Linked DNA regions of Homo sapiens: regions 1, 2, 4 and 5 are each linked to region 3. Evidence: fine-mapped expression QTL. A gene starts in region 3. Each other region holds a variant in brackets. All regions are shown on one strand. Distances are between the middles of the regions.

Region 1 (5,101 bases), 78 kb after region 3:
CCAGCAAGGAAGCTACTTGGTCACTGTTGGCTGGGAGCACTCTAGAAGGGCAGGAAGGTCACTGCCTTTGTTGGTGCCCATAGGAGGAAGCTGAGACAATGAAGGGGGTGACAGTATCTGCCAGGTGCTGGCTCCTACTCTGTGCTGAGCCTGTTATAAATATTGTTTCAGTCCTGGAAAGCTCCGTGTGATTAGCCCAGATACAGAAAGTGAGGCTCAGAGGGCTTATGCCAGGCAGGAGAGGCCACATAGTCAGTGGCTGGCCAGCGAGTCCTGTCCACGATCCCATTTGATCTGCTCTGTAAAGTCCTCAGAGGAAAGATAGTTTTTTTTCCTTTAAATTAAGACCCTGGGAGTCAAAATGATATATGTTTACACAACAACCTGGTGGCAGAGGTGAGTATTTCACAGCCCAGGTTTAGGCATCAGGCAGACCATTGTCCAAATCCTGCATGTTGTTGGTTTCTCTAACCTTGGGAAAGTGGTTTCTCCTCTTTGAGCCTTAGTTTTCTTGTTTGTACAATGGGACATTAATACCTACTTCATCAGTAAATTGATCATTGGGATTAGTTGAGATTATACAATGAGATGCTTACTGCAGTGCCTGGCACACAGCAGGTGTCTAATGGTGACAGATGCTGCCAGGGACTCTGATTATTATTCCCATTGTCTCCCCAGAGAGGCTACTCTGCCCGGCACGAGGTCCGCCAGTTCCACTTCACAGCGTGGCCAGAGCATGGCGTCCCCTACCATGCCACGGGGCTGCTGGCTTTCATCCGGCGCGTGAAGGCCTCCACCCCACCTGATGCCGGGCCCATTGTCATCCACTGCAGGTGGGGGCACCGGGAATCCCAAGGAGAAAAGGGGCCCTTCTCCCTGGGAATTTGGGCTTGGGGTCAGGTTGGTTCAGGATCTGTAGTGGGGACCAGGCCTGGGTTCTCCTGCTTAGAGATGGAGTGCAGGAGGGAACGACCCCCAAAGGCCCTGTCCCCTTTGGCCTTTGGCTCTGAGGTTGGCATCTTCATGTGCCCCCCAAGACCTGTGAAGCCCCTTGACCCAGGTGCTGAGGAGGCACTGGAGATAGGGAGGGGCCTCCGGGCCGCTGAGGCGCCAGGCACGATTGAGTTCTGCCTGCTTTCAGTAAGCAGCTTTTTGTTGCACACCTGCCGCGTGCTAGGCCTGGCCTGGGGGTGGGAAGGACTTCACTTCTCTCCACCAAACCCAGTGGGCCTTGCCTACCCCTTGGCCTTCACACCTTCTGCAGACCCTGACTGGCTCCCGTGACCCCAGCTGCCCCTCCTCTCTCTGCTTTCTCCCTGGCTCCACATCTTTCTCTTGCTTCTTAAATGGGGACCCAGTACGCTGTCCTGGCCTGCCCTCTGTCTCCCCCTGGAGAGCGTAACCCCCAACCTTTGTGGCTTTGTCCATGGCCTCTGTGTCTCATTGCGGTTCCTCTACTGTGTTCTTATCAGCTCCCCAAATGCCGCATGGTAGAGTCGTCCTCCCTGCCCTGCCACCTAAACCAGCTTCTCTTTGATTTCTTTAGGCCTCTTTAAGATGCCATCTTTTAAAAACAAAACTTTATTGATATATAATACACTTAAAGCAAAGTGCAGAAATATGTTTAAAAATATGAATTTTCATAAACTGAGCACACTTGTGAAAAAACCAGCTCTACTGAGATTAAGAAACAGAACATTGGCTGGGCACAGGGGCTCATGCCTGTAATCTCAGCACTTTGGGAAGCCAAGGTGGGAGGATCATTTGAGGCCCAAAGTTCGAGACCAGCCTGGGCAACATAGTGAGACCTCATTGCTACAAAAATAAAAAAATTAGTGGGTTGTGGTGGCACAAGCCTGTAGTCCCAGCTACCTGTGAGGCTGAGGTGGGAAGTTTGTTTGAGTATGGGAGTTCCAGGTTACAGTAAACTGTAATTGCACCACTGTACTCCAGCCTGGGCAACAGAGCGAGACTCTGCCTCTAAAAAAAAATTTTTTTTTAAAGTTAAGAAAGGAGCAGAACATGAACAGTTCCCAGAAGCCCCCTTGAACCCGTTTCTGGCCTGAATTCCCCCATCCCCAGTCCCAGAGAAATCACTATTCTGACTTCTAAAGCGCAGTTAGTTGCACATGTTTTTGGACTTGTCATAAATGGAATCATACAGCATGTGCTCTTTGCTGTTTGTCTTCTTTCCCTGAGCCTTAGGTTTGTGAGGCTCGTCCACAGTGGATCATCGTCCATCAAGTGAATAAATGACAGTGTGTTTGTCCATTCTGCCATGATAGGCATTTGGGTTGTTTCCAGTCTTAAGCTATTATGAGTAGTGCTGCTAAGGACATTCGATCGTATGTCTTTTGGCCAAGAAATGTATTTCTTTCTGTGTGGTATGTACGTAGGAGTAGAACTGTTATCTGTGTGAACGTTCAGCTTTAGGAGATATTGCTGAGCAGTTTTACAAGGGGGTTGTGCTAAGTTAAGCCCCACCAGGGGTATTTGGGGTATTCAGTTGCTGTATGTCCTCGCTAGCACGTGGATGCCACTGTTTT[C/T]AAACCTGAAATCTTGCTGTCATCTTTGTCCACTCTCCTTCCCCCTCAGCTCTGCACAACCTTGCGTGAGGACAATGATCTTGATGTGCCCCCAGTCAAGTTAGGGAGACAGCCACATAAACAATGACCATGTAGCAGGAAGAGTGTTTTATTGAATTAATTAATTTTTTTTTTTTGAGACAGGATCTTGTTCTGTCATCCAGGCTGGAGTGCAGTGGTGTGGTCTTGGTTCACTGCAACCTCCATCTCCCGGGTTCAAGCGATTCTTCTGCCTCAGCCTCCTGAGTAGCTGGAATTACAGGCACGTGCCACCACACCCGGCTATTTTTTGTATTTTTTGGTAGAGACAGGGTTTCACTATGTTGGCCAGGCTGGTCTCGAACTCCTGACCTCAAGTGATCCACCCACTTCGGCCTCCCAGAGTGCTGGGATTACAGGCCTGAGCCACCGTGCCTGGCCACGAAGAGTGTTTTAATAAAAACCTGCCCACGTTGCTTTGGGAACTCAAAAGAATGACATCATCCTGGAAGGGTCAGGGATGCTCCAGTGGGTATGTGAATGGGTATGAGTGTGTGGGCTTTTCAAGGATGTGTAGGAGATTTGGTGGTTTTCAGGAGGAAAGAACATTCTTGAATTAGCTCGGAGGATCATCATTCCTGTTCTCTCCTAATCTTAAGTTGCTAGGTTGAGCCAGTGTCACCTTTGCATTCTCCCCACCCTCTCTCCTCTCCTTCCCTGAGGCCCATCCCATCTCTGTCCTCTAGCACATTTCACTAGAGCTCTTCCATCCAGCAGCCTGCGTCCTGGCTCCTTACTCGGGGAGGGGCAGTCATCTCTGTGTCCGTGTCCCCTGTATGGTGTAGACATGGCCAGTGCCCTCCTCTCTTCTTCTCCTTAGTCCCGGGCTTCCTCCCCAAAGCTCTGACCTGGTCTGGGGCTGCTCTCTCTCCAGCGCGGGCACCGGCCGCACAGGTTGCTATATCGTCCTGGATGTGATGCTGGACATGGCAGAGTGTGAGGGCGTCGTGGACATTTACAACTGTGTGAAGACTCTCTGCTCCCGGCGTGTCAACATGATCCAGACTGAGGTGCGGGGACCTGGCCCTGTCCCCACCATTATTACTTCTAGGACTGGAGTTTCTCGTGAAGGATCCTGGAGCCGGCAGAGCATGCCCAAAGGGTGTCCTGAGGCTCTTGCCTTCCCTCAGATCATCCCTGACCTTGGGCCGCCAACTGCATAGGGTCATCCTGAACTGCTCCCCTGTGTTCTGTTGGGTGGGGTCAGACAACCGGTCCTGTAGCTGACATACCTGGGATTGCATCCTCAGTGGATGTGTGACCGTGAGCTGTCCCCCACCTCTCAGAGCACTCACAGAGTTGTTATAGGGGGTAGGGATGAAATAGGAGATAAAGGGGCATGTCCATGGAGGTTGTTTCAGGTAGGCTTGGTCCAGCCTGTAGTAACATGGTTGGCCTCCACCTCAGGACACCCTGCTTCAACCTTGAGCTTGCTTAAGCCCCATCACCACAGATCTCCAGCTTCTAGGCCCCTCCTCGGCCTCATTCTCATCTCCTGTTCCAGGAGCAGTACATCTTCATTCATGATGCAATCCTGGAGGCCTGCCTGTGTGGGGAGACCACCATCCCTGTCAGTGAGTTCAAGGCCACCTACAAGGAGATGATCCGCATTGATCCTCAGAGTAATTCCTCCCAGCTGCGGGAAGAGTTCCAGGTGGGGGATGAGTGCGTGTGTATAGGTGTGTGTGTGTGTGTCTGTGTGTGTGTTGGGGCATCCTTAATACTGCAGGAGTCATTGAGGGCCAAGAAGCAGGGACCAGCCTGAGGCCACAGCTGGAGGGACAGAGCTGAGCTACCAGGAAGGACTTTGGGACAGCGGAAGATGGGGTGCATCAAAGCAGTTAAGAGCCCAGGCTTTGAAGTCAGATAAACCCAGGTTCAAATCCTGGCTTACCTAGTTAAGAGCTGTGAGTATCCTTGAACAGTTCCCTTTACCTCTCTGAGCCTCAGTTTTGTTACCCAGAGAAGAGAAGTAGTTAATATGTCCCTTGGGGTGTTTGTATTCATTGGGATTCTTTTGGTTGTGAGTGATGAAAATCCAGCTTTTATAACTGAAAAGTCTGAGGATCGTGCAGCTTCAGTTGTAGCTGGATCCAGGGGCTCAGATGATGATGCCAACAGGTGGTTTCTGTCTGCCTTGGTTCTGCTCTCCTATTTTTGGCTTCATTCTCAGACCTGCACCTGGCCGCCAGCAGTGCTGGGCTCCCATCATCTCTATTGTCTGGTGACTTAGGAAAAAGGCGCTTGCTGCTCCCAGCATCCCCCCAACAGTCCTAGATCAGACTTTCATGTTCCCATCCCTGGACCAGTCACAGGTTGGAGAGGTGGAGCTCACTGATTGCCCCTGGCTCTGGTCACATGCCCAAGGCCTGGCTCTTGGGGCAGGACCAGCCTCACCATATCACATGGCTGAGATGGGAAAAGGCTGGTTCTCCAGAGAAGCCTGAGAGCGATCACTGGGTGGCAGAGACCTCAGA
Region 2 (5,101 bases), 25 kb after region 3:
CAGAGGAGGCTGAGGCCGAGCTGAAAGTGGGCACCTCCCCAGGCAAGGCTGGAGGAATATCAGTATGATAGGGGCCCTCCCGCCTCCCCCAGGTGCTGTTTGAGGCCCTCATCTCCCCAGACCGCAGGGGCTACATGGGCCTAGATGACATCCTGCTTCTCAGCTACCCCTGCGGTGAGTCCCAGCCCACTGGGGGCGCAGGGGTAAGGGGTGTGGGCGGCCGCGGCTCCTGCCTGCAGGGGGTGCAGGCCCAGCTCACGATGCAGCTCTAACCCCGCAGCAAAGGCCCCACACTTCTCCCGCCTGGGCGACGTGGAGGTCAACGCGGGCCAGAACGCGTCGTTCCAGTGCATGGCCGCGGGCAGAGCGGCCGAGGCCGAACGCTTCCTCTTGCAAGTGAGCGGGAGCGGTGATCTTGGCTGGGGGCGGGGTGGGAGGGGGTTGGTGGCTGCTTCTGGCCCTGACTCCCCCCAGATTGCTGAGTCCCTGCTTCATACTCCAGCACTGCGCACAGCGTCCCGGCCCTCCCCTAGCTCTGCTCTGCGCTTTCTTGGGTCCCCCATTCCCCCAGGTTAGAGCGCGGCTCCAGGAACCTATGTCCGCGCGGTGTAGTAGGGACGGCTAAATGGGGCCCGGGTCAGAGCGAGATCGGGACCCCTCGCTCCGAGGCGCCCCTGACCCCCTCACTCTCTTCCCTGCAGCGGCAGAGCGGGGCGCTGGTGCCGGCGGCGGGCGTGCGGCACATCAGCCACCGGCGCTTCCTGGCCACTTTCCCGCTGGCTGCCGTGAGCCGCGCCGAGCAGGACCTGTACCGCTGTGTGTCCCAGGCCCCGCGCGGCGCGGGCGTCTCTAACTTCGCGGAGCTCATCGTCAAGGGTCAGCTGGTGGACGCCGGGGAGCGCCGGGACCTCACCCTCGAGGGGCGGGGCCGGCGACGGGGGCGGGCTCTGCCCGGGGGCGTGGCCGTGGGGGGTGGGGCCGGCAGGGTGTCGCTGGGGCGCTATCTGAAGATGGGCCTGTGGAAATGGCAGTGGCCCAGCCGGGATGAGATCTGATCTAGGGGTCGGGGCTGGCTTCGAGGGGGACGGACAGGGTCAAGGTGAGAGCCTAAAGAGGGGTGGGGTTCTGGCTGTGTGACTTCTGTGTTGATCCTAGCTGGCCTGCGGTCCGCTCCAGGAGGCGAGGATGTGGGGGATTAGGAGGGGCCTGAGAGAGGGGTTGTGGGCTGATGGGCGAGGGCGGGGTCAGCCTTTGGAGCCAGGTGCCCCTTAGGGCCCGGGATTTAGTGGGGGTAGGAGAGCGGGTCTGGTTGAGGGCTTGGTAGCAGCGTGAGAGGCCCTAGGAGGACGGAGAGGGATTTGGGTGTGGTGGAACTCAGAGTTGGGTGCTGGGGTCTCACAGCAGCATCGGTCCGCCTCGCCTCTCCCCCATCTCCTCGCAGAGCCCCCAACTCCCATCGCGCCCCCACAGCTGCTGCGTGCTGGCCCCACCTACCTCATCATCCAGCTCAACACCAACTCCATCATTGGCGACGGGCCGATCGTGCGCAAGGAGATTGAGTACCGCATGGCGCGCGGGCCCTGGGCTGAGGTGCACGCCGTCAGCCTGCAGACCTACAAGCTGTGGCACCTCGACCCCGACACAGAGTATGAGATCAGCGTGCTGCTCACGCGTCCCGGAGACGGCGGCACTGGCCGCCCTGGGCCACCCCTCATCAGCCGCACCAAATGCGCAGGTGGGTGCAGCAGCTACCCCTGGCCTCAGTCTCTGGTGGGCCCAGGGCTATGGAGGGGCGCATTCGAGAGGTAGCGTGGCCTGTGCTTGTAAACCTTTCTAAAACATTGTGATTTTTCCTCAACCCTTGTTATGGTAAAGATAATGATAGCTAATACTTTACTTTGTGTCAGGCACTTAAACATATCTGTGTGTAGACACACACACAAACCCATATTTATAGATTTAAAACTTACAACACTACCACGATGTAGGTGCTCTTGTCGTACCCATTTTAGATGTGACTGAGGTACAGAGATGTTAAGTGACTGGCCCAAGAGCACACAGCTAGTAAGTGGCAGAGATGGGATTGGAACTCTTGACTGGCTGACTCCAGAATCTGTGTTCTTAATTCTACATCTAGATAAAATAAGCAACTAAATACCATCAAATACAAGTATATTATACATTCTAGCTGGTTTCTCTTGTCTGGGTGTTGAGCCTGAGGTCTGCTCTTCCTTGTTAAAAAGGGCAAAGCAGCTGTTGGAGGATGGTACACCTGTGCCAGATGAGGGTCTTTTTTGTTTAATCAGAAGAGAAATTGAGAACACAATAGGTTTTTCTTTTTGTGACTTTAGTATTGTTGTTGTTATTATTTTTCCTTTTGAGACAGAGTTTTGCTCTGTCACCCAGGCTGGAGCACAGTGGCGCGATCTTGGTTCACTGCAACCTCCGCCTCCTGGGTTCAAGTGATTCTTCTCCTGCCTCAGCCTCCCGAGTAGCTGGGATTACAGGCATGCTCCACCATGCCTGGCTAATTTTTGTATTTTTACTGGAGACAGAGTTTCACCAGGTTGGCCAGGCTGGTCACAAACTCCTGACCTCAGGTGATCCACCCGCCTCGGCCTTCCAAAGTGCTAAGATTATAGGCGTGAGCCACCGTGCCTGGCTTAGTGTGTTTTTTTAATGGACTTACTAAGATAAATGTAGAGTCACATGCAGTTGTAAAAAAAATACAGAAAGATTCTCTGTGCAAGTCACCCTATTTTCTGCAGTGGTAACATGTTGCAAAACTAT[A/T]GCATAATATCACAGTCAAGATATTCACATTGATACAAACCACAGATCTTATTCAGACTTTTCTGGTTTTGCTTGTACTTGTTTGTGTGTGTGTATATGTGTATGTAGTTCTGCACAATTTATCACATGTGTAGGTTTGTGTATTCACCACTACAGTCAAAATACTGAATAGTTCAATCCCCTTAAGGACTCTTTTATAACCACATTCACCTCCCTTTCTTCCTCTACTCCCCAACTTTTGGTAGTCACTGATCTGTCCTTTCTAAAATTTTGTTGTTTCAAAAATATTATATGAATGAAATCAGAGTATATAACCTCTAGAATTGGCTTTTTTTGGATAACAGCTTTATTGCAATATAATCCACATCTCATACAATTCAATCCTTAAAATGTACAGTTCAGTGGTTTTTAGTATACGGTAGTCCCCGTGTATCTGAAGTTTCTCCTTCTATGGTTTTAGTTACCTGTGGTCAACTTGAGGCTTGAAAAGGTGAGTACAATACAATAAGATATTTTGAGAGAGAGAGACAGACCACATTTGTATAACTTTTATTATAGTGTGGTGTTGTAATTGTTCTATTTTATTATTAGTTATTGTTGTGAGCCTCTTACTGTGCCTAATGTAGAAATTAAACTTTATCATAGGTGTGTATGTATAGGAAAAACATAGTTTATCTAGGGTTCGGAACTCTCTGTGGTTTAAGGCATCCACTAGGGGTCTTGGAATGTGTCCCCTGCAGATATGGGGGGACTACTGTATTGACAGAGTTACACAACCATTAACTCAATTAATTAATTGAGTCAACCATTAACCATTAATCAATTTTGGAACATTTTCATCACCTCAGAAGGAAATTTTGTACTCTTTAGCAGTCATCCCCATTTCACTCGCACACCTCTAGCCCTAGGCAACCACTAATTTCCTTTCTGTCCCTATGGATTTGCCTCTCTGTGGACATTTCACATAAATGGAATCATATAATATATAATCTTTTGTGACTGGCTTCTTCCATTTATTTTATTATTTATTTATTTATTTATTATTAAGACGGAGTTTCACTCTGTCGCCAGGCTGGAGTGCAGTGGCGTGATCTCGGCTCACTGCAACCTCCACCTCCTGGGATCAAGGGATTCTCCTGCCTCAGCCTCCTGAGTAGCTGAGACTACAGGCACCCACCACCATGCCTGGCTAATTTTCGTATTTTTAGTAGAGATGGGGTTTGGCCATGTTGGCCAGGCTGGTCTCGAATTCCTGACATGAGGTGATCCGCCTGCCTTAGCCTCCCAAAGTGCTGGGATTACAGGCGTGAGCCACTGCACCTGACCCTTCTTCCATTTAACATGATGTTTTCAAGGTTTATCCTCATTGTAGCATGTATCAATACTCCATTCTTTTTTATTGCTTAATAATATTCCATTATACAAATATATCACATTTTATTTGTCATTCATCAGTTGATGGAAATTGGGGTTGTTTACACTTTTCAGCTATTATGAACAGTATTGCTATATTTGTGTACAGGTTTTTATATTGATATATGTTTTCATTTTTCTTATGTACCATATATATCATAAGATATCTCTGTGTTTATTCATTGAGGAACTGCTGGACTGTTTTCCAAAGCAGCTGTACCACTTTAAATTTCCACTACTTGTCTATGAGGGTTCTAGTTTCTCTGCATCCTTGTCACCACTTGTTATTATCTGTCTTCTTATAAGCACTCTAGTATATATGAAATGGTATCTCATTGTGATTTTGATTTGCATTACCCTGATGGCTAATGATATATCGAGCATTTTTTCATGTGCTTATTGACCATTTCTATATCTTCTTTGTAGAAATGTCTTCAGAGTGTTAAAAATGACCAATTTTTAAGTTGGGTTATTTGTCTTTTTATTATTGAGTTGTAAGATTATTTATATATTCTGAGTAGGCCGGGCATGGTGGTGGCTCATGCCTGTAATCCCAGCACTTTGGGGGGCCGAGGAGGGCAGATCATTTGAGGCCAGGAGTTTGAGACCAGCCTAGCTAACATGATGAAACCCAGCCTCTACCAAAAATACAAAAATTAGCCAGGTGTGGTGGTGGGCTGTTGTCCCAGCTACTCAGGAGGCTGAGGCACAAGAATCGCTTGAACCCGGGAGGTGGAGGTTGCAGTGAGCTGAGATGGTGCCACTGCACTCCAGCCTGGGTGACAGACTGAGATTCTGTCTCAAAAAAAAAAAAGGAGTATTTATATATTCTGGACACTAGATGCTTATCAGATGTTTATGTTTGCAAATACTTTCTCCCATTCTGTGGATTATATTT
Region 3 (5,101 bases):
AAATGGGATCACTGGTAAAACTCCTATTTTGAGGCTCTCTCAAGAGCCCTCTGCAAACAGCACCCTTGGTTGTTTCTTCTGTTCACTGGTTTTCTCTCCTTGAGTTTCCTTTTCTGGGTGGGCCTCTCTGGCTCCTCTCTGCTCCAGCGTCTCTGTATCTTAGTTTCTTCCCTAAGGTTTCCCCTTGGTTTCTTCTTGCTTCTGCCTCCCTCTCCCTATTTAATTATCTGTGTCTAATTCTTGCCTGCTGTGTCTTTTGGTCCCTTTCCTAACTCAGTGTGGAGCTCATCAGCTCTCACAAGAGAGGAGACCAAGAGCCCAGGAACTCTCAACCCAGCGATACCTCCTCCAGCCCCAGGGCAGCTTCAAGGTGTGTCCATCTCAGCATGAAGCCAGCTAGGAGGGGCAGGGCACAGGGAGGGCCTACATATACCTTGAACTCCTACGCTTTGTTCAGTGTCACTGCCCAGTGGTCAGACCCATCTGCCCATGGCTTTCCCTACTTCAGCAGTCTTTATAGCTGGAGCTGTAAAAAAAAAAAAACAAAAAAAAAAAAACCCAGAGATCAGAACTTATTACTCCTTATTACTCCTCTGCTTAATTACTCCACTTCAGTGGCCTCCCATTAATTACTCTTAGGGTTGAACCTCAAGCCCCTTCCTTGCTCATAGTTTCTTGCCTGACCTACAGACCCTGCTGACTTGTCTAGCTGCACCTGGCTCCCTTCTGCCCCTGACTCACTCCATGCCAGCTGCCCGGCTTCCTTGCAGCTGCTTGTACCCACCAGCTCCTGCCTTTGCACAGGCTGTCCCCTCTGACTGCAATGTTCCTCTCCACTGATTTGCATGAGGTTGGCTCCTTCTCATACTTCAGGTCTCAGTTCAAATGTCACCATGTCACTTCTATAGCAAAGCCCTCTTGGACCACTTATCTAAAGGAGATGCCCCTTCCCTATGTTCTTTATCATTATACTCCCTCGTTTCCTTTAGCTTGCATATCTTAGATGGTAATGATATATTTATGTACATGTTTGCTGTTGGGCTCTCCTAATAGAATGTAAGATTCATGAAGGCTAGGACCATTTCCCTTTCATTCATTCCATCCAGTCAGTATTTATTGAGCATCAATTACGTGCCAGAGGCCGGGCGCGGTGGCTCACGCCTGTAATCCCTGCACATTGGGAGACTGAGGCAGGTGGATCACCTGAGGTCAGGAGTTCCAGACCAGCCTGGCCAACATGGTGAAACCCTGTCTCTACTAAAAATACGAAAATTAGCCGGGCGTGGTGGTGGGCACCTGTAATCCCAGTTACTTGGGAGGCTGAGCCAGGAGAATTGTTGGAGCCTGGGAGGCAGAGGTTGCAATGAGCCAAGACTGCGCCATTGCACTCCAGCCTGGGCAACAAGAGTGAAACTCCATCTTGAAATAAAATAAAATAAAATAAAATAATAAAAACATGCCATATACTGGGCACGGAAATACAAGATGAGTCTTTTCCCAAGGGAGCTCATTTCTAGAGGTGGAGACAGATAATGAACTCATCATATAGCCCGCACTCTATTTGAAATTGCAACAATTCCCCTTCCCTTCCCTGTCCCCCCACCACCCCCAAATTTCCTGGTGTATGAGACAGTGATAAAGGACGTACACCAGAGGGTTTGCTTTTTTGTTTTTGTTTTTTTGGTTGTTTACTGTTCTTGTCTTCCCACTGGAATGTAAGGTCCATGAGAGTAGGGAATTTTTGTCTGTTTTATATCTCTACCCTGGCCTATAGTAATTGTTGAATAAATGAATAGACCCCAATAAATATTTGTTGAATGAATAGGTGTCCAGATGGGAGGAAGGTCTCAGCCCCTATTCAATTCAAACCAAACAACTTTGATTCAAATCTCGGTGCTGTCAAATACTGTTGCATAACAGTATTTATGCAGTATAATTATTGCATACCTAATATATGATGATTAAATGAGTCCATGTGGGTTAAACACATAGAAGGTACCTGGTCTTACATAGTAATGAGCAACGAGTTTGCAGATCATAGTGCGAGGGCTCGTTCTGGGTAGAGGCCCAAATACATTTAACCTGTGTAGCCAGAAGGTAGAGTAGGACCAGTGAGGGCTAGTGAGGGAGGTAGACTTGCACGTCATGAAATGAAAAACTTTCTAAAAGCCGGCGTTTCCAAAGCCCCAACAACCGCTCTTGGCCAGGTGATGAGCGCCCTGTTCCTGGAGGTATGTAGAACACGCATTTGAAGGCGCCAAGGTACAAGGGATTCAGGCATCGGATGGGACAGAGGCCGGGTGTCCCTGGGTCACCGTCCCTGAGAGCGCTGTACGGGAGCTAGGCGTGGGCCATGAGCGTGCTCGCCTGGCAGTGTTGGTGCCCGGTCCGTGGAGACGTCCGTGGGCGTCCAGACCCAGCCGCGGGGCCTCATGGCGGGGAGGATGCGGGAGCGGGGGAGGGGCGCGCCAGGGCTAGCGGGCGGCCGGACCCGCTGCAGCACCCGCCGTGGCCAGCAGGGAGCGCCGCGAGACCGCCGAACCCGCGGCCGGGCCTGACGTCAGCGCCCCGCTTGCTCCGGCTCGCGCTCTGGACTCGGCGCCAGTCCCGCTCCGCGCCGCGCCGCTCCGCTCCGGCTCGGGCTCCGGCTCGCCTCGGGCTGGGCTCGGGCTCCGGGGGCGGCGTCCCCCGCGCCGGGCCCCGGGACGGGCGGCGACGCTCCAACCATGGCCCGTGCCCAGGCGCTCGTGCTGGCACTCACCTTCCAGCTCTGCGCGCCGGAGACCGAGACTCCGGCAGGTAAGCGCGCGGCGGCCGGACCGAGCCTGCCCCGCCGAGCCTCGGGGCCCGTGGCGTAGCTCGGAAGAAAGTGTGAGTGTTGAGTGACCGGGCGTTACGAGCGTGCTCCCTGTGTGTGTCTGAGCGTAGGATGGGCGATTGTGTGCCCGGGGTGTTGCGTGACTGCGAATGTTGTGTGTCCGTGAGTTCTGTGCGCAAGAAAAGGTGATGTGTGTCGGCGAGTATGTTGGGGGTGAATGTTGTGTGCATCGAGGCATTGGGTGTGCGCTGAGTGTCTTGTGGGTCTGCCAGTGTGTAGTGTTTGTGTGGCCAAGTGGGTTGTGTGTGCATCTGAGTTTGGTTGTGTTGCGGGAGTTGTATCTGCTAATGTGTTGCATTTGTTTGCATTTTGTATGCCTGGCCGGGAGTGCTGTTTGTTTTGTGTCTGCGAGTGGGTTGTGTGTTTGTGTTATGCCTGTGGCCAAGGGTGCTCTCTGGATCCCGCCTGAGTGTGGATCCGGGAACGCGTGTGTGGCGTGTGTGCTTTTGAGATCCGTGTACATGTGTGAAGGCGTGGGAACGGGTCCGGAACGTGTGTGTCCGTGCGCTGTGTACGTGTGGGGAGTGTCTAGGGTATGTGGTGTGTGCTGCCGGGGGCCGCGTGGGTCCGAGTGAATGCCAAGTGTGCCGGGAATGCGTGTGTGGGAGCGAGTCTGGAACGGATGTGAGTGTGTGCGAATGTGTCCGTGTGTGCTGGCTGCGCGTCCAGGAATGTTGCGAGTGTGGAGCGCGCCTGGGCCGCGGCTGCGAGTGTGCCCTGGTCCCGGGGCCGCCCGAGGGGGCGGTGGCAGGACGTGTGTGCGCGCGTGTGCGTGTGCGCGTGTGTGGCGCGCTGGGCCGGAACAAGTTGTCGCGGCGGCGCCCCCTGGGCTGCCCGGGTCGGGCAGGGCCCGAGGCTCAGGGGAGGACCGGGCCCCGCGGCCGCCGCCTCGGGCATGTCGGACTGTTTGTTGTTTCGCAAGTTCCGCGCGGCGCTGGCGGGCGGCTGATCCGAGGCGGCGCCGGGGCTGCGGGGCGCCCGGGCCAGCGGGCCCCAGCGAGGGGCCGGCGGGCGGGCAGGGGAGGGCCGGACCGGCGGGCGCTCCTGCGGTGGCCGGGCCGCGGCTGCGCCCCGGGCGGCCGGGCGGGGGCTGTCCCCGGGCTGGGCTGCGACGTCCGGGCGCGGGCAGGGCCTGGCTCGCCGCCGGGGGACGGCGCCCCCTCCCTTGGCGCGCAGGACGCGCGGGGGACGCCCGGGCCTCCCGGGACACTCCCTTGGTGGAGCCTGCAACTTTGTGCGGCCTCCCGGCCGGCCGGGACCGCCAGGTGTGTGCTTGAGTGTGAGCGTGAGTGTGAGCGTGTGGCTCCGCGCTTGTCTGCTGTGTGGTCGCGTTCTCCGGGTGTGTTTCGGAGTCTGGTGTCTTTGGTGTGCGTGCGCGTGTGTGTGTGCGCGCAGCTGAATGTATGTATACGGAGCCTGTGTTTGTGTGTCCGTGTGCTCGTCGGAGTGTGGACGGTGTGTCGGATGTGTGTGCGTGCGCGTGTTCCACATCCCACCCTGAGGCCTGGGATCCTAGACCGCGGCCCCTTCCCGCGGAGTTTCGGGGCCCTGCTCCGGGTGACCTCCCCCGCCCTCGCCACCGGCGGGGCTGCTCCGCGGGCTCCGGGTAGCCGGGAGACGCCCGGGGCGGGATCCGAGCCGAGACACGTGCTGGAGCGGAGCCGCTTCCTCACGGTCGCCAGCCGCAGACAACTGACCTCCCCGGCATCGCGTTCGCGGCCCTGCTGCTGGCTCCGGTGTCTCGGGCCGGAACTCCTGTGGCTCCAGCGTTCGCGCCGGCCACTGGCCAGCGCTTGGGCCTCGCCCTGCAGCTCCGGGGCCATAGGGCACAGCTTTAGCTTTGACCTCCCCGTTCCCGAAAGGACGCCCAAGGCGACCTCCCACCCCATCCTCCCCAACTTCTCCCCCATGTCCTGCGGCAACTTTGCCTCCCTCTCCCACCGTGAAATCAAACCCGCGGGGTTCTGTATGCGCCCCATCCCCGCTCCTACCACCATCGCTTTGATTTCAAGAACACTCACAAGCCCCAAGCCCTGCCAGCAGGAGGACTGTCAGGAACTGAAGTTTGGGAGTGAGGCCTAGAGCAGGTTACTCCCATTCTTGATGCCTCAGTTTCCTCTTCTGCCTCATAGCCATCATGATAATGGTGTATGGCACTTTTGGTAGATACCAAGTACCTTGTAAAGTAAGGCTCTGTCTGTGAGTGCCAGGGAACAAAAAATG
Region 4 (5,101 bases), 33 kb after region 3:
GGTGATAAGTGCCGTGAAGAAGAAAAGCAGGGAGTGGGGCCTGGAGGGTTGTTATTTTTAAAAGTCTCAAGGGAAGGTGACATTTGAGCAGAGATCTGAAGGAGGTGAGGGACTGAGCCGTGCAGAGAGCTGGGGGCTTGCTGGGGGAAGCAAGCACCAGCCCGACTGAGCAGCCAGCACAAAGGCCTGGAGGCTGGAGAATGCTTGGCACGTGCAAGGGGCATCCAGGAGACCAGTGTCACTGTGTTAGTGACTGAGTGGGAGATGGCAGGAGAAGAGGCTGAAGTTGAGCTGCAGATGTGGGACTTAGAGCCGTTGTACACAGAGAGAGCTGGGGAGCCACTGAAGAGTTTAGAGAGCAGGAGTGAGCATCATCTACTTTTGTTTAAAAGGATCACTCTGGCCCTTTTGTGGAGAATGTTCTCCAGGAGGGCAAAGGTGCCGCAGAGACCAGGGAGGAGGCTACTGCAATGATCTGCTTAAGAGGTGGTGATGGCTGGGAGCCGAGTGGAAGTGGTGGTGGTGGGGAGAAGTGGTCAGATTCTGGGTTTATTTTAAAGGCAGAGCTAACTGCATTTGCTGATGGATTGAATATGGGATGAGAGAAAGGGAAATAGAAGTCAAGGATGGCTCCAAGGTGTTTTGCTAGAGCAGCAGGAATGATGGAGCTGTCATTTCCTGGAGCGGACTGTGGTGGCAGCTGATTTGACGTGGGTGTCATAGATCAGGAGTTCTGTGTTGGAAATGTTGACTTCGAGATCCCTATTAGACATTCAAGTGGAGATATTCATCAGCAGATGGATACATGAGTGTGGAGTTCAGGGAAGGGGTTCGGGCTGCAGATAGAAATTTGAAAGTCATCAGTGTGGAGATGGTATAGATGGCATTTAAAGCCCTGAGGTTGGATGAGATCTTTTACGCTAATGGTTCTCAACTAGGGGCAATTTTGTCTCCTAGGAGACATTTGACAGTGACTGAGGACATAACCGTTGTCACAACTGGGTGGCGGCAATGGGGTGTTACTGGCATCTAAAGGGATAGAGGCCAGGGAAGCTGCTAAACATCCTACAATGCACAGACAGCCACATAAGAAAGAATTATCTAGTCTAAAATGTTCATAGTGCTGAGGTTGAGAATCCCCGATTCAGTCCTTAGATTTTTAGGGAATAAATGTAGATGGAAGAAAGAGGAGTTGGAAAGCCTGAACCTTGGAGCCTCCAGTGTTTTGGGTTAAATGCAGACAATTGCAGGGAAATGCATTAAATGCATGTGAAGTATAGCGCTTAACACACAGTAAGCACCCAGTAAATGATGGTGTTTTTAATCTTTCAAAGGCAGTTCTGGTTTGCCACTTAGGATAAAAGGAATCATAGCACAGGGTTCCGCAGAGGATCTCTATTGCACTCCCCTTAGTGTACAGATGGGGAAGCTGAAACCCAGAGAGGGGAAGAGACTTGGCTGTGATCAGACAGTGGGTCAAGAACCCAGGTTTCATGATGACGGCTGTTGATTATTCCCATTTTACAGATGAATAAACTCAGATTTAGAGATTTAGCCACTTGTACAAATCTACACAGTGAGTCCATGGCAGAGCTTGAATCAAAATTTGAATCTCTTGATTTCTCATCCAGTGTTTTGTTTTAGTTTTTTGTTTTATTTTGTTTTTAGAGACAGGGTCTCACTCTGTCACCTGGGCTGGAGTGCAGTGGCACGATCATAGCTCACTGCGTGCAGCCTTGAACTCCTGGGCTCAAGTGATCCTCTTGCTTCAGCCTCCTAAGCAGCTGGGGCTACAGGCTTGCACCACCATGCCCAGCTAATTTATATACATATATATATATATATATATATATATATTTTTTTTTTTTTTTTTTTTTTTTTTTTTGTAGAGACAGGGTTTCACTCTGTTGCTCAGGCTGATCTTAAACTCCTGGCTTCAAGGGATCCTCCTGTTTCAGCCTCCCAAAGTGCTGGGATTACAGACAGGAGCCAGTGCATCCAGCCTAATCCAGTGTTTTTAACAGCAGCAGCAGCAGCTGCTGCTGCCACCATCATGGGCTGAATGCCCACTTTGTGCTGGGCACTGTGAAACAGTTTTCATAGGCTGGCCAGGACGGAAGCTGGGGCAGGGGCCTGGCAGACAGGGTGCAAACACCTCCCCCTGCCCTTCTGAATTACACG[G/C]TTCTCTTTGTTGACATCATGGCCCCTCCCTGCTTAGGCGCGTTGGCCGGCAGTTGTTTTGCTGTTGGCCAGCTGTGTTGTCATCTCCTCCATCCCCATGAAACTCCCCTCGCACTATATTATTTACTGTAAAAACAATAATATAGCATCAGGCGAAGGCATTTTTTAAAATAAGCACTCCGAAGCTCATCATCCTAGCCCAACAGCTGTTTTAATTTTTCTGACTTCTTCACATCTCTGCCCATATGCCTGCAGTAGACATTTTTACACCCTTGCATTGGGATGTAGAAAGCATTTCGTATGCTGCTTCATTTGCTTGGTGTTGTTACGTGTGTTATGTTGTTTATAATTATGTTTACTGACTCTAGAAGTCCATTGAATGTCCCCATTTAGCTGGACTGTTTGCCTCCAGACTTCTATAATGATAAATAATACTATATTGAGAAACCTAGCGCTTGTAGTTCTTCCCTTCTCCCCCCACCCTGAGTTATTTCTTTAGGATAAAGTGTCAGGAGTGGTTGAAGAAAGGGCTTTTAAATATATTGCTTTAAAAAATGGTTGTGCCAATTTATACTGCTACTGGCATCTCATGTTAATGCACACATGTTTATTAATTACTATAGACTGGTAATGACTGTAGGCTGGTAATGACTGTAGGCTGGGCAATTTGACTCATATTATCTCATGTAACTCTCACATTTGCTCTTTAAAGTAGGCATCATAATCTCCATTTGTTTGTTTTTGTTTCTTTTTTTGACAGAGCCTCACTCTGTCACCCAGGCTGGAGTGCAGTGGCATGATCTTGGCTCACCGCTTCCTCTACCTCCCGGGCTGAAGCTATTCACCCACCTCAGCCTCCCAAGTAGCTGGGACTACAGGCGCGCACCACCATGCCTGGCTAATTTTTATATTTTTGTAGAGATGAGGTCTCACTACTATGTTGCCCATGAAGGTCTCGAACCCCTGAGCGATCCTGCCTTGGCTTCCCAAAATGCTGAGATTACAGGCATGAGCTACTGCACCCAGCCATAATCTCCATTTTTTAGTGGAGGAACCTGACATCAACATTCAAAGGGGGTTAAGTAACTTGCCTGAAGCCACAGAACTATGGCCAGGTGCAGTGGCTCATGCCTGTAATCCCAGAACTTTGGGAGGCTGAGGCAGGTGGATCACTTCAGCTCAGGAGATTGAGACCAGACTGGGGCAACATGGTGAAACCCTGTCTCTACAAAAAACACAAAACAAATTAACCAGGTGCATGGTGGCACATGCCTGTGGTCCCAGCTACTCAGGAAGGTGAGGTGGGAGGATTGAGACTGCAGTGAGCCAATGATAGCACCACTGCACTCCAGCCTGGGTGACAGTGAGACTGTGTCTCAAAAAAACAAACACAAACAAACAAAGAAAAAAAAGAACTAATGAGAGGTGGAGATAGGATGTGAACTTGGGTGTACCAGATCCCAGTCCAAAGCTCCTCCCATGAGAAAAAGTTGAACATTTCAGGGTTATTGCATCTTGTTTAGCCTTACTAAAGTCAACACATGGTGGCCTAATTCAACAGCTGTTAAATGTTATCCTCATTGTTTTAATGTGCATTTTGACCTCTGATCTCGGAGTGACCTGTAGCCCTGTGTAATTTAGAGGGATGGGGCTTTGAGGTCCCCAAGTTCTGTTTTGTCAGCGTGTGTTGACAGTTGAAGAGAGTGTGTCTGGGTGCCAGATGGTTTTTAGAAACGTGGAGAAACTCATGGATTCACACCCCTCAATCAACATATCAGTCTGTAGTCAACAAACTATTTGAGCTCCCTGGATCTGTCCAGATATGATCAGGGTAGGCAGGAAGAAAAAAGAAAAGTGGACCTTCTTTTCAAAGAGCTCTCAGTCTACCTGGGTGGATGGGAGGTGGCACAGTTGTCAAAGAATGAGATGCCTAAGTCTGAAGTTGGGAGTTTCATCCTCCAAAGTTGCTATCTTGGGCCCTGTAAGGTGATTTGAAGAAGCTTGAGTAGGTTGCCAGTATTTAAAAATCTGGAGATTTCACATAAAAATTGGAATTTCTGGCTCCTCTTGAAAAATGGGAGGATCTGGCAACTCTGAACCTGTAGTCCTGCCTGGCAACAGTCATCTAGAGGTGAGCAGTAGCTGCCCCTTTTGGATGGGACACTACTGTCCTGTTTGCCGTGGTCTTTACCCAGCATACGTCCCCCGTTTACATGGAACTTCTCCTGCCCTTCTGTAAATGCTGCAGGAGGACTAGGAAGCAGAATGCTTCTGCCAAGCCCTAGAGGCTGGAAAGGAATGCAGGGCAGCATTCCAGGGGGTGGGGATGGTGTGAGCTGAGCTGCAGGGAACAGAGAGCCACTCCCAGTAGTGCAAATAAAGCAGTGGTACCTCGGCTCTTGTAGACTCCCAGGACAGTGCACACAGGGCAGCCACCTCGGCTCTTGTAGACTCCCAGGACAGTGCACACAGGGCAGCCAGGACCACAGCCAGAGAGTTGAAGAATAACGCGAGGACCTCTGGGAAAGATGGCAAGTGAGCACACCCCAGATCTGCCTCCTCTGGCGCAAACATAGAAGAATGATGGCTTAAAACAAAACTACATTAAAAAAATTAGAAAAATCTCTATGGGCCAGGAATGGGAGAGAAAACCTAAGTGTGGTGAATGGGCTTGCAGCCCACAGTACCCAGGATACAGGGAGCAGTGGCAGCCAGCCCCTCAGTGTCCATATGGGATGGGATTTGGGTGGTCCCTGCTTGTGGGGAGAAGGGAGCCAGTCAGGAGGCAGGCTTTGTTCCTAGTGAGTGCTGAAATCTCTCTTCGATGGCTCCATGTATAACTGGAGACATGCTGCTTGCCTGCATTCCAGGGAAGAAAGGAAACCTTCTGGGTGGAAACAGAATCTTGTATTGTGCTGTA
Region 5 (5,101 bases), 59 kb after region 3:
GGCTATATCCCCTACCTCTTTCTTAGATGTAAATATTCCCTTGAAATTGTTGTGTTTTTTTTTTTTTTTTGTGAGATGGAGTCTCACTCTATCACCCAGGCTGGAGTGCAGTGGCATGATCTCGGCTCACTGTAACCTCTGCCTCCCAGGTTCAAACAATTTTCCTGCCTTAACCTCCCAAGTAGCTGGGATTACAGGCACCTGCCACCATACCCGGCTAATTTTTTTGTTTTTTTGAGATGGAGTCTCACTCTGTTGCCCAGGCTGGAGTGCAGTGGTGTGATCTTGGCTCACTGTAACCTCTGCCTCCAGGGTTGGAGCAATTCTCCTGGCTCAGCCTCCTGAGTAGCTGGGATTACAGGTGTGCGCCACCACACCCAGATAATTTTTGTATTTTTAGTAGATGGGGTTTCACCATGTTGGCCAGGCTGGTCTTGAACTCCTGACCTTAGGTGATCCACCCACCTTGGCCTCCCAGAGTCTTGGGATTACAGGCGTGAGCCACCGCACCTGGCCAGTTTTTGTATTTTTAGTAGAGACAGGGTTTCACCATGTTAGCCACGCTGTTAGCCACGCTGGTCTCGAACTCCTGACCTCAATTGATCTGTCCGCCTCAGCCTCCCAAAGTGTTGGGATTACTGGCGTGAGTCACTGTGCCCAGCCTCCCTTGAAATTTGTGTTTATAATTTTCCTACCTTTTTCGGGGGTAGTTTTTTGTTTTTTTTTTTTTTGAGACGGAGTCTCCCTCTGTCACCCAGGCTGGAGTGCAGTGGCGCAATCTCCGCTCACTGCAAGCTCCGCCTCCCGCATTCATGCCATTCTTCTGCCTCAGTCTCCCTAGTAGCTGGGACTACAGGCGCCCGCCACTGCGCCCGGCTAATTTTTTGTATTTTTAATAGAGACGGGATTTCACCGTGTTAGCCAGGATGGTCTCGATCTCCTGACCTCGTGATCCACCTGCCTCGACCTCCCAAAGTGCTGGGATTACAGGCGTGAGCCACTGCGCCCGGACTTTTGGGGGTAGTTTTACCATGTGTACATATATCCCCAAACAACGCATTGTATAGTTTTGCTCATTTTCATCCTTTATAAAAATGAAATCACACACTACTTAACTCCACATCATATTTAAATTTACCCATGTGGATGTTTTGCTGCAGTTCATTTACTTTCTCTGATGCGTAGTTTCCCATTGTATGGCTGTATCACAATTGACTTCTCCATTCTGCCATCCATGGGCATTCGATTGGTTTTTAGTTTTCTTGTTATCACAAATGAGACTGCTGTGAATATTCTGATGTGGATGTCTAGATGCACCTGCACACAAGGTTCTAGAAATAGAATTGCTGGATTATGGAGTACGTGCATCTTCAGCTTAATAAGAGTGCCAAGTTGCTTTCCAAAGCAACTCTGCCTGTTTTCTTTCCTAGCAGCAGTGTGTAAGACTTTCTGTTGCTCTACATCAAGATCAAAATTTGCCAGCCTTTTTCACTTCTGCCACATTAGTTTGTATAAAATGGTAATTCTCTATAGTCTTAATTTGCATTTCACTGATGACTAATGAAGTTGAACGTATTTTCAAGTCATCAATGGCCATTCAGGTCTCTTTTTCCATGAAATGCCTGTTCATGTCTTTCACCTAATTTTCTATTGGGTTTTCTGTTGCTTTCTTAGTGGTTTTTAGGAGTTCTTTATATATTTAGGATAATAATCATTTGTCACTTGTGAATTGCAAATATCTCCTCCCAATTTGTGGCTTATCTTCCTAGGTTATTTATAGTGTCTTTGGATGAACAGAAGATTTTTATTTTTGTGTATTTAAATTCATCAGTCTTTTTCTTTGTGATTTCTACTTTTTGTGTTTTTTAAAGAAGTTTTCCCTATCCAAAGTTATAAAATATTTTTTGCTTTTTTTCTAGAACTTATAACATTTTACATTTTATATTTAAATCTTTATCCATCTGGAATTGATTTTTGTGTGTGGTGGTATAAGTTAAGGATTTTATTTTTTCCATGGTGATAAGCCACTGTCCCAGCATCATTTATTATAGTTCACGCTTTCCCTGCTGATTTGCAGTGCCATCTTTCTCGCACACCCCATTTCTACAGATAAGTAGATCATTTTTCAGTTCCCTGTTTCTTTCATTGGTTGGTTTGGTTGATTCCTAACCACACGGTCTAATTATCGAGGCTATTTAAGTCTTGATATCTGA[A/AACATGAAGCTGTGCC]ACATGAAGCTGTGCCAACTTTGTGCTTCATCAAGGATGTCTTGGCTATTTTTGTTTTCATTCTCTCTCTCTGTCTTAATGAGATAGGATCTAGCTCTGTCACCCAGGCTGGAGTGCAGTGGCACAATCTGGGCTCACTGCAACCTTCGTCTTCCGGGCTCAAGCGATCTCCCACCTCAGCCTCCCGAGGAGCTGGGACTACAGGGGCGCACCACCATGCCTGGCTAATCTTTGCATTTTTTTTTTTTTGGTAGAGACGGGGTTTCACTATGTTACTCCAGGCTGGTCTCAAACTCCTGGGCTCCAGTGATCTGCCCGCCTCAGCCTCCCAAAGTGTTGGGATTACAGGCATGAGCCATCACGCTCGGCTAATTCTCTTTGTTATAAATTTTAGAGTCATCTCTTTAAGTTTCTTGAAAAACTTTGTTGGATGGTTTTGTATTGAATTTATAGATCAATTTGGAAGAATCGCCATCTTATGAAATTGTCTTTCCACCCATGAAAGTGATTTATATTGCCCCATTTATTTAGGTCTTGAATGTCTTTCAATAATTCTCTCCATAAAATCTTGTACATCTTTTTTTAGATAGATGTCCCTAGGTTCTTTATTTTTGACTTCTATTGCAAATGGTACACTTTTCAAATATTACATTTCCATTTCTTATATAGAGAAATGCAGTTTATTTTTGATTGCATATTGATCTTACATTCATACTTCTTTTTTTTTTGTGAGACGGAGTCTCACTCTGTCACCCAGGCTGGAGTGCAGTGGCGCAATCTCAGCTCACTCCAACCTCTGCCTCCCTGGTTCAAGTGATTCTCCTGCTTCAGCCTCCCAAGTAGCTGGGACTACAGACGTGCGCCACCATGCCCAGCTAATTTTTGTATTTTTTTTTAGTAGAGATGGGGTTTCACCATGTTGACCAGGCCAGTCTCGCACTCCTGACCTCAGGTGATCCACCCACCTTGGCCTCTCGAAGTGCTGAGATTACAGGCATGAGCCACCGTGCCTAGCCTTATATACATACTTCTCGATATGCTTTCTTATTCTCATTTCTCTGTAGAATGTTTCAGGCTTTCTGAGCAGTTAAAGGATCTGTGAATATCCTTTGCAGAAGAAATAGTTGTTTTTTCTTTCCCACTTCTTATTCTTTTTCCCCATGTTTTTTTGGCTGGGACCTCCGGTACTGTGTTGAATAGACTGGTTGTAGCTGGAATCCTTGTCTTCTTTTCCTGACTTTAACAGGAATGTTTCTAACATTTAAACACAGAATGAAGATTGCTTTGGGGTTTTGGTAGAAATGTTTTTATCAGGCTAACCAAATTCCTTTTAGTTTTTAGTTTGCTGAGAGGTTTTAAGTGGGCATTAAACTTACCAAATACTTTTTTCTGCAATTATTGTGATAATTATTTTTTCCCCTTTTGTCTGCTAATGGGATGAGTGACATTTTTAGATTTTTAAAAAATTACCTTAAATTCCTGGGATAAATTCAACTTGGTCATGATGATTATGATGTTTCCTTTCCTTTCTTTTTTTTTTTTTTTTCTTTTTGAGATAGGGTTTCACCCTGTTGCCCAGGCTGGACTATAGTGGTGTGATCATGGTTCACTGCAACCTCGACCTCCTGGGCTCAAGTGATCCTCCTACCTCAGCCTCCTGAATAGCTGGGATGACAGGTGCCCACTGTCATGCCTTGCTACTTTGTTTTTTTTTTTTTTGTATTTTTTGTAGAGACAGGGTTTTGTCATGTTGTCCAGGTTGGTCTTGAACCCCTGGGCCCAAGCGATTTACTTGTCTTTGCCTCTCAAAGTGCTGGGATTACAGGTGTGAGCCACCGTGTCTGGCCAGATTTTAAAGTTCTAATTTGGTATATTTAAAGGACTAAACAACTATTCAGGCTTTCTATTTTTTTAAAAATAGAAAGTTATATTTTTGATAAGTTATATTTGTCTAGGTATTTGGCCATTTTATTTATGTTTTTAAACTCAGTGTTATGCACTTATTAATCATATTCTCCTTGTAATCTCTCTTATTAAATTTTCACCATTTTATACCATTTTACCCTGCTTAGTAGCTGTTTTTTTTTTTTTTTTTTTGAAACAGGGTCTCACTGTGTCGCCCAGGCTGGAGTGCAGTGGTGCAATCCTGGCTCACTGCAACCCTCTGCCTCCCGGGTTCAAGTGATTCTCCTGCCTCAGCCTCCCTAGTAGCTGGGACTACAGGCACCTGCCATCATGCCTGGCTAATTTTTGTATTTTTTGTAGAGACGGGGTTTCACTATGTTGGCCAGGCTGGTCTCGAACTCCTGACCTCAAGTGATCCACCCGTCTTGGCCTCCCAAAGTGCTGAGATTACAGGTGTGAGCCACCGCACCTGCCTGCTTAGTAGCTGTTATTAACCCTTCAGCTTACAAATCAGGAAACAGAGGCTTGGAGAGGGGAAGTCACTTGTCCAGGTTAAATAGCCAGAAAGTGGCAGAGTCAGGACTTAAATGCAAGTCTTTCTGAATTGCAAATTTGTTTCTACTGCATCATGCTGCACCTCGAGGGATGGGTAGGATTCAGACCGCAGAGATGGGAAGGAAAGGGCATGTGTAGAGGAGGCACTGTATGTGCAAATGTGTGGTGATAGGCATGGGAGGAGACAGGGAGAGGTGTGACTGCACTAAATCCTCCAGTGGGTGCTAGAGAGAGCGGGAGATCAGGGTGGTGTGGGCTCATGCCTAACCGCTGAGTCTTGCTGAGAGACAGAGAGAGGCAGGAAACATGGGCTCTGCTCCTGGGATTCACTGATGAGTTGGGGAGTCAGGACTGACCCAGGGAAGTCGGGACCAGGCTAATTGCTATGTGGATAGTGGGGACAATCAGTGCTGTTAGTTTTGAGAAAA

Direction of the effects. Alleles are on the strand shown, and positions count from the first base shown. SD is a standard deviation of normalised expression in the study named. Not every link is listed here.
With allele T in place of C in region 1, the expression in skeletal muscle of the gene that starts at base 2,604 in region 3 is lower (small effect, 0.26 SD a copy in GTEx).
With allele G in place of C in region 4, the expression in spinal cord of the gene that starts at base 2,604 in region 3 is higher (moderate effect, 0.75 SD a copy in GTEx).
As copies of AACATGAAGCTGTGCC replace A in region 5, the expression in atrial appendage of the gene that starts at base 2,604 in region 3 goes up (moderate effect, 0.45 SD a copy in GTEx).

What was found. PIP is the estimated chance that this variant, and not a neighbour inherited with it, causes the effect.
Region 1: its variant is the best candidate, but not a certain one, in a credible set for the expression of PTPRU in skeletal muscle (GTEx, PIP 0.50).
Region 2: its variant is the best candidate, but not a certain one, in a credible set for the expression of PTPRU in blood mononuclear cells (TOPMed, PIP 0.73).
Region 4: its variant is the best candidate, but not a certain one, in a credible set for the expression of PTPRU in spinal cord (GTEx, PIP 0.72).
Region 5: its variant is the best candidate, but not a certain one, in a credible set for the expression of PTPRU in atrial appendage (GTEx, PIP 0.90).

The regions. Positions count from the first base shown.
Region 1 is chr1:29,311,874-29,316,974 of GRCh38, forward strand. It overlaps PTPRU (protein tyrosine phosphatase receptor type U), which reads left to right. Exons shown (of 30, transcript NM_133178.4): 22 at 679-833; 23 at 3,499-3,634; 24 at 4,129-4,278. Among named protein-coding and RNA genes, the nearest start is that of LINC01756, 36 kb to the right of the region's middle. RefSeq lists enhancers at 378-955, 956-1,531 and a silencer at 1,264-1,558. The variant C/T (reference allele first, on the strand shown) is at 2,547.
Region 2 is chr1:29,259,169-29,264,269 of GRCh38, forward strand. PTPRU (protein tyrosine phosphatase receptor type U) reads left to right here. Exons shown (of 30, transcript NM_133178.4): 4 at 93-174; 5 at 281-396; 6 at 702-876; 7 at 1,442-1,735. Among named protein-coding and RNA genes, the nearest start is that of PTPRU, 25 kb to the left of the region's middle. The variant A/T (reference allele first, on the strand shown) is at 2,791.
Region 3 is chr1:29,233,919-29,239,019 of GRCh38, forward strand. PTPRU (protein tyrosine phosphatase receptor type U) reads left to right here and starts at 2,604. Exons shown (of 30, transcript NM_133178.4): 1 at 2,604-2,799. The coding sequence starts at 2,727. RefSeq lists a silencer at 2,407-2,726.
Region 4 is chr1:29,267,391-29,272,491 of GRCh38, forward strand. All of the region lies in intron 7 of PTPRU (protein tyrosine phosphatase receptor type U), which reads left to right. Among named protein-coding and RNA genes, the nearest start is that of PTPRU, 33 kb to the left of the region's middle. The variant G/C (reference allele first, on the strand shown) is at 2,182.
Region 5 is chr1:29,292,762-29,297,862 of GRCh38, forward strand. All of the region lies in intron 15 of PTPRU (protein tyrosine phosphatase receptor type U), which reads left to right. Among named protein-coding and RNA genes, the nearest start is that of LINC01756, 55 kb to the right of the region's middle. The variant A/AACATGAAGCTGTGCC (reference allele first, on the strand shown) is at 2,214.